Homo sapiens: one gene and its partner. The protein of the gene in region 1 purifies or fractionates together with the protein of each later gene. This does not show direct contact. Each region holds a gene or a part of one and is shown on either strand. Other genes may lie near its edges.

Region 1 (3,820 bases):
ACAATTCTGCACTTTGACTCATGATACAAATGTTCTCTAAGTCCCAGCTATTGTGTTTAATATATCTAATAATAGTAACAATCATTTATTTAATATATATTATGCACCAGAGATGGTGCTGGGCCCATTATGCATACACAATCTCATTTAAAAACCTGACGACACTTATGCAAAAGTAAGTATTGTTGGTATTAAACAAAAGGAGGGAAGGAGGTTCAAAATCTAACTACAACTAAAAAGAAGAATCAGAGTGTGGATTCACAAAGGTCTGACTTCAAAATCTATAAATTTTCTGCAATATCACTTTGCTCTCTATAAAACTAAATACAGTCAATCTCGTTCCCATTGTGGATTCCATATTTTTAAGTCGGCCTGCCTGCTAAAATTTATTTGTTAACCCCAAAATCAATACTCACAATTTCTGACTTTTGTAGTCATTCAGTAACATGTACAGAGCAGTGAAAAATGTTGAGTTGCCCGACATACACGTGCATTCCTACCAGAGGTCAGTCAGGTGACTTTCTTCCTACTCGTTTAAACTATCATACTGTAAACATATGTCCCTTTTGTAGTCTAAATTAGTACCAGATTTTTTTTTGAATTGTTGTGCTTTTTGTGGGTGATTATTCTGTTTTAAATAGCCCCTTGTATAGTGCTGAGAAATGCCGTCTAGTGCTCCTAAGTGCAAGAAGGCTGGGATGTGCCTTATAGAGAAAAGACTTGATAAGCTTTGTTCAGCCGTAAGTTATAGTGCTATTGGCCATGAGTTCGATGTTAGTAAGTCAACAATATATATTAAATGTCTCTAAACACAAACATAAACAAAACAAGGTTATCTATTGATCAGTTGGTGAAAATGTTGTGACCAGAGGCTTCCAGGAACCTAACCCTGTCTTTCCCTTAGGAGCCATGATTCAGTATTCCCTAATTCAATGTTTTCAGCAAGTGTATAGAATACAGTTATGGCAAATAGTCAGAATCAACTATAATACAACTGAAAACTTTCCCCCAAAAAATGTTTACATTGATATTTCAGTAAAAGATTCTTCCTCTGTCATTTCCTTCAAAGATACTACATCATTATATTTATGCAGTCATCATTCATCTGCTTAAGAAACCTTTTGTTGGCCTTCTGTTTAATGGGTTGCAGCTCCATGTGTTTTACTTTGCTCAGAAAATTAATCTCTCTTAAAAACAATCTGGCTTTCCAGTGTGAAAGTTTAAGGCAATTAAATTTCACTTCTTATTACCAGATGTCATGGATACTGTGTAAAGATGACTGTTTTGTGAGATTATGATTTTTAAAACTAGATATTATAGTTATACATAATATAAACAGCATAAGCAACAACAACAACAATGAAAACTTAGCAAATGAAATCAGAGAAATAGCAGCACAAATTGGAACTCTTACCTTTCTTGCCCAAGTCAGAGATTTTATTGAAAAAAAAAAATTACAGTACTTAAAAATTCAAACAAGGACAATTCAGGGTTGAAAGAAAGAAAACCCGAAGGAGTCCATTGTCTTCAGTAAAGTTTTAAATACAAAAAACATAGACCAGAAAAACAGCTTATGGCCTAATGCACTAGTTCCATGATAAACACACATATATAGTATGTCTCCATCAAGTGAAACTTCATCACCTTTTTACAATTTAGAGAGGGAAAGCAGCTTTTAGTATGGTTAAGCCATGTATCATCAATACCATGAAGCTAGCCTATCAGTTGTAATAGCTTCTATAAAATACCACAGTGAGATTGCAATAAGCCTAGAAAATGGGCTACAAATCCCAGCTATGCTCAAGCAAGCAGTGAACCAAAAATAAAAATAGGTAAAACTGAACCAAGAACTAGATAGCATTCATCTAGATTCATGATTGATAAGGCAAAGTTCATAGGCCAAGGTTTTAAAGTGACTTATTCAGATCTAAAAGACAGTCATTATACAAAATAAAACAAAAGCATTTATGTAATTCAGAAAAAAAACATGAATTTTCACTCCAAAGACATAGCACAGAAAAGCTTACTTACAATTACCAACACCACACTATTGTACCTTTAAATATGCAAAGGTAAAGAGACTCAAAGTTGCATTTTACCATTTTTAATCTCTCCAAATTAGACAAGCAATCTAAAAGAAGATGTCACACATTCCTGTTTAATGCATTTGCTGAAATCTTTCAGACTTTAAAAACTTTAGGTAAAAGCAATGGCAACTTGAAGTTTCTTTTCCAATCATATTTAAGTTAGCCATTAAATGCTGAATTAACAATTAATCCATACAATAATATAAAAATACACATATTAAATCACATTGTTTTTCATTATTGAAGCTTAATAAAAATATCATTTTAATATAACCATTTTGAAGAACTCAAATGGCTGAACTTATTATAGTGTCTAAATTATACCATCAATAGAAACATTACATTTTCCCCCCAGTTGGTGAAAATGAGCTCATGCAAGTATTTCTGACACTCACAGTGACACATATGGTCTGCCATTCTAAAGATGTACAAGCAGCTCTCACTTTTAAACATGACAATATGATTCAGAATCACACAGCATTTGTTAAAAATACCAGCTTTCACATGTTTCATTAAGCTCTAAACCAAAATAATAATTTTGATGTGTTTCAGGTATCAGACAAAGCAGATAATTTAAAAGGTAAATGATTCTACTAGTGCAGACTAGTTATCACTGTGGCTAATTTAAAACGAGGATGATTTTTGCAGTACAATGAAAGCTATACTATAAAATACAATGAGTTTGCAATACAAGCAGATTACCCAAGTAGAAAGGAAGCTGAACAAAATACAAACTCCAGCAAAGATTATCAACCTTACCTACTACTCATCTTAGCCCTTGTTAAAATACCCTGAGTAAAATGCAAATATTTTAAATAATGCTGGTTATATAAGACTTCTCTAAAAATGAACCATAAATGTCAATGCATCATGATTTTTATTTACAACAGTCAGATATGTAAAAATTAATTCTTAATCAGTCACAATATAAACATTAAGGAATACTTGTCGATCTGGAAGTTTAAAATTTTCTAGCTTTGTTAGCATTTTGGCAAAGCAAGTATACATAAATGGATTCAATGTAAAAAAAAAACCATAAAAGAGAAAAATATATAATTTACAGTAGTTTCTATCCACCCTGGGCCAACCTAAATCCCTAGAAAGCCTCCCCAGTCAGGTTCACTTCTGACTAAAAGGAAGAATACCAGTCCTCCAGCAAAAACAGCCCCATCTTTTCATCAAAGAGGCTCTCACTTCAATGATATTCCTCCAGGGAAGAGGACAGGAGCCAGGTTCCCTCGAATGTCATTCCCCAGATGTTCAAAACGTAACTAATTTATTAGCATTAGAAGATTTGGTTTATAGGGGAATCTCACTGGTCCAGTTTGTAGCCTACAAAAAAATGGATTATTTTTAAGTTTAACATTAGAATATGAATAAAGGATGAGGATGTGGCTTTTTATTCCATAGAAATGGAAACATTTCCAAACATGACAATTACACAGAAAAAGTATGCCTACCATTGAAGTTGGAGTCCCTCCAGATTTTTTAATATTCTTTGAAGACATTCCATGAAGGCGACTGAGTCTAGCTTGGAAACCTGTAAAATCAAAGTACTCAATTTAGAAGTTTTCTATGATCACTGAAGCATAGAAGAAGAAGAGGATCCTATCAATAGAGAAAGAAAAGTAAGTTGGTGGTGGCGGTGAATGCCACGAATATTATTTGGGAAAATGCAAAACTCACACTTAAAAAAACTGAAGCAATGCCTAGCAAAGTACTAAGGCAGTCAG
Region 2 (3,820 bases), about 58 Mb from region 1:
GTCCTCTCAGCTCCCTTTCCTTCTTGGGGCTCCTGTTCCCTGCATGAAGAGCAGCCTCTGACCCTCACTCAGAGGAGTCTAGGGAGCTCACCATGACTCTGGGAGGCAATCTCTCTGCCCCCTCTCAACTTTTTACTTATTCCTTATCCACATTCCTCCCTTAAGAAGGAGGATGGGGTAGGGATGGCATGAGGACACTTACTAGATACAGAACTAGATTCAGAGGTGAGTGTCTCACTGTCCTCTGTCTCCTATAGTAACTAACTGCCCGAGCACAGCAGGGAAAGCTGAAGTTACATACATTGAGCAGTTCTCTTTCTCCAGTAGGGAACATTTGGAGCAAAAGAATCACACCAGAGTATAAGGGCTGGGGGAGGTGTGTTCCTGCATGAAGGAAGACAGATGGATGAGGCGGCTTAAGGAGAATCCAGTAGCCAGAGGGGAAGCATTTTAGATGAGGGGAAAGGAGAAGGAGTAGAAGGGCCCTGAGGTTCTCCCATGCAATTTTGATGGGAGGAAACATCATGGAGATTAGCACTCAATAATATTTGCTGATGAGCAAACCAATATCAGCTTAGTTCTCTATCTAACAGAGTTTCTGCAACTGTGACCCCATCCACCCTCCCAGGCCCCAGCACACCACTGTGCAGTCAGCCCTCAAGTCTCTGGGATCCCAATGGGCCTTCCTCTCTTCCCTTTTTAGGGCATCTGCTCCCAACTGCTAGAAGATGCTCTGGACCAGAATAGCAGGTGAGCCGTAGATACAGCCTACAGATCCTCGTGCAGACGTAGGATAATAACTGGAAAGGCCAGTACTAGGCAGCATGAAGGACTTATAATTGATAGAGATCCCCAACTCCAAACCCTAGCTAAGAAGGCTGTGGGGTTACTTTCCAGTGATCCAGAGTTCGTAGCAGGAGTGGGGCCGGTAGGAGGGTGGGAAGTGAAAGGAGGTAGGCTCACTCTGCCTAGGGGTAGTGCAAGGGTCAAAGTGACCTTCGGAGGTTCTTTCTAGACCCAGAAGCCCACTTAAGGCTCCTAGACCCGTTCTTCTCCCCACCCCTTCCCCTCACCATGCCCCCACTCCTTCCCAAAAAAAGGTGGCTAAAAGACAGCTCTGTTGGAATTGTAGATAGGGTTGGGGGTGGGGTCATCTGAGTGAAACCAAGAGACAAATAGTTGGGGGAAAAACACAAAAAAACTAGCGGTGAGAGACCTCCATTCTAGTCCCAGACTTGCCACCAGCTGCCTGGACACCATCATCTTACCTCTCAGAGCCTTGCTGGGAAAATGATAACTGTTCCATCTACCTCCCAGGGCCAGGAAGGGCTAGGAAATATCTATGTGCCCTGGGCAAATGCAAAGACGGACACACTGGACCTGTGCCAGCGAGGCCAGGTGGGGCTTTAGTTATTCACATAGAGCTCAGTCCAGGGTACTTGACTCAGCTCTGGGGTGGGGGGCCTGGCCCACCTAACTGCTTCCATGGTTGAGGCAGGAATGGGAGCATTGCTTAGAGTGCAGCAAGAGGCTGTGTCCATGGTTAACGTATAAGCAGGTGCAGTCTGGGGCAGCGGGACATTCTTAGCCCCAGGGCCACATTCTTAAGGTCACAACAAGTGCAAACTTGTTATAACCAGTGTCAGAGCAGCAGAGGGCAGCAAGGGCATGGGGGGGAGGGACATGGTGCTGAGATGCCTGCGGCCGTGGAGGGGGTGCAAAAGGGAAAGGGGGGTGGGGTGGAGGGAGGGTGGGTGTGCAGGTGCATATGCCAGGAGGTGGTGTTGTGGACGTGCGATCTGTGTGCTGGGGTCAGTGTGTTGTGTCTGGGCACATCCGTTTGGGTGTGTGTTGGGAGCCGTGTGTGGGGCCGCATAGATGAGTGTATGCCTGTGTGTCTCTGCATATATGAGCCCCGGGGAGTCCTGTAGTGGGAGGAGGAGAGGTGGCAGCCACAGGTCCAGGCTGGGCATACGGAACCGAGAAGTGGGCAGGCTCTGAGTGCCCCTTCCCCTTCTCAGGCCTCAGAGAACCTGCATTCCAACTCCTCCACAGACTGCCCCTGCCCCTGTGAGCCTAGGGCCTCTCCCCTCTGTGTGCCCTCTGCAGCCTGCCCTGTCAAATGCCCATCTCCCCAGCCTGCCCAGAGAGTGGGGGAGTCACCTCCTGCCCATCCCCCCTGGCCCAGGGCCCACTCCCCCGTGCTCTCTGGGCCCTCCGGACACTGGGGCGAAGGGGGGGTGGTGGGGAAGGCTCTGAAAGCAGGTGACTGTTTGGGGGAACTAGGGGACAGAGCCCCCATTGTGCCTGCCCCGGAGCCGCCTCAATGGAGCTCCCTGGCACAAAGGGGCTTTGACAATGGGCAGGACATTAGTATGCAGAGCCAGCCCCTCAGCCCTCTCCCTGTCCCACAGCCGAGGGGCGGGAGCTGGGGGACTGCTGGTAGAGGGTGAGGGGGGCCCAGGACTGAGACTAAGGAGATCTTGGCCCACAGGGGCTCCCCTGGGGGCACTGCCCAGGAGACAGGGGAGGAGACTAGACTAGGGCCTCCAAACCTGCCACTCGCCAGAAAGGACTTTCCAAATGGAAAAAGCCACGGGGACTGGTAGGAGTGGAGCGGGAGGGGCTGCGGGATGCCAAGCCCCTTGGTCCCAGGCTGGGCTCTAGAAAGAAGTGGGTGGGCAGTCTAAGTCCTCCCACGTTTTGCCTCAGTTTTACCATCTATGCAAAGGAATTTTGTGGGCAGGAGAAGAAAAACAGAGTAATACATAGCAAGTTCCCCAACCCCAGCAGGAAGGGCATGTGCTCAGGGTTTGGGGTCTTTGGGGTTCTACTTCCTTGGGGTGCCACCTTCTTTGAGATCTCCACCTGCTCTGGTTCTGGAGGCTGAAGAAGCTACTACAGGGGAAGCAGGGGTTAGGGACAAGAGTCGCCTGCCACCTGTGCTCTTCCAGGGAATTCAACCTGAACTAGTGAAGGTGGAGCTGGAAGCCCAGCTCAGGGGAATTTGACTGAAGGGCCAATGAGCCAGGACTAGCTCTTCCCAGTATATGTCTAACTCCCCATCTGCCTCCTCCTGTTCTACAATCTGTGAGGAGAAGCTTCCCTTCTCCTGCCCAGGGAACCCCAGCAGGCACCCCTATCCTCATTAATGCCCTCAGCACCACCAACTGGCTTTTCCAAGGCACCATGTTGTGCCTTGTGGTGCCTCAGCACAAAGGGCAGGGCCAGAAGGCATGATCTGGGGAGGGGCTCCTGGGCCTTGGGTGGTGGGAGAGCTGAGAGGAGGGCAGTGAGCGGGACTGAGCACCTCATGAGAAGCAGGGTTGCCCAATCACAGACTTCCTACGAGCCCCAGGAAGAGAAGGCCGGGGACACTTTGCAGAACTGCTCCCCACACGGCAAGACAGAACAATCTCTGGGCTTGAAAATGTCTTCCTAGCTTTCTTTCTCCTCTTTTCAGTTGCTGTCAGTATCGGAAGTTCTCCCTGCTGTCTGCCCTCAAGGCTTCCCACTGTACTGCCCTGGCCCTGGGCTCACCTGAGATTGCTGGGGAAAAGAAAGGTAAAGTCTGCTTCTTTCCCCGTCTTAGGACCTTGCTCCTCCACTCTCCACAAAAAAATTCTGGCGGGGAGAGCAGAGATGGAGCTAGGCCTTAGAACTCCTGGGTTCGGGGCCCAACAACCCTGTCAACTCTCTCTGGGAACTTGCACAGGTCACTTTCCCTCTCTGGGCCGAGCTCCTATGTGTAGCATTGGATGGATCTCCTCTGCAGCTCCCTGCCTTCGGGACAATGCGCAGTGGATTCAGGGGCAAGGCT

The links.
Region 2: the proteins of GPATCH2 (region 1) and KCNJ10 purify together in Homo sapiens (affinity purification with mass spectrometry; one large-scale study listed by BioGRID and IntAct). This does not show direct contact.

Annotation. Positions count from the first base shown.
Region 1 is NC_000001.11:217,606,774-217,610,593, forward strand, and holds part of GPATCH2 (G patch domain-containing protein 2), read right to left. Parts: intron 3,628-3,820; coding exon 3,548-3,627; intron 3,420-3,547; coding exon of another isoform or gene 3,387-3,419; exon of another isoform or gene 1,416-3,386; intron 1-1,415. UniProt on the Homo sapiens protein: Enhances the ATPase activity of DHX15 in vitro.
Region 2 is NC_000001.11:160,060,026-160,063,845, forward strand, and holds part of KCNJ10 (ATP-sensitive inward rectifier potassium channel 10), read right to left. Parts: intron 1-3,820. UniProt on the Homo sapiens protein: May be responsible for potassium buffering action of glial cells in the brain. Inward rectifier potassium channels are characterized by a greater tendency to allow potassium to flow into the cell rather than out of it.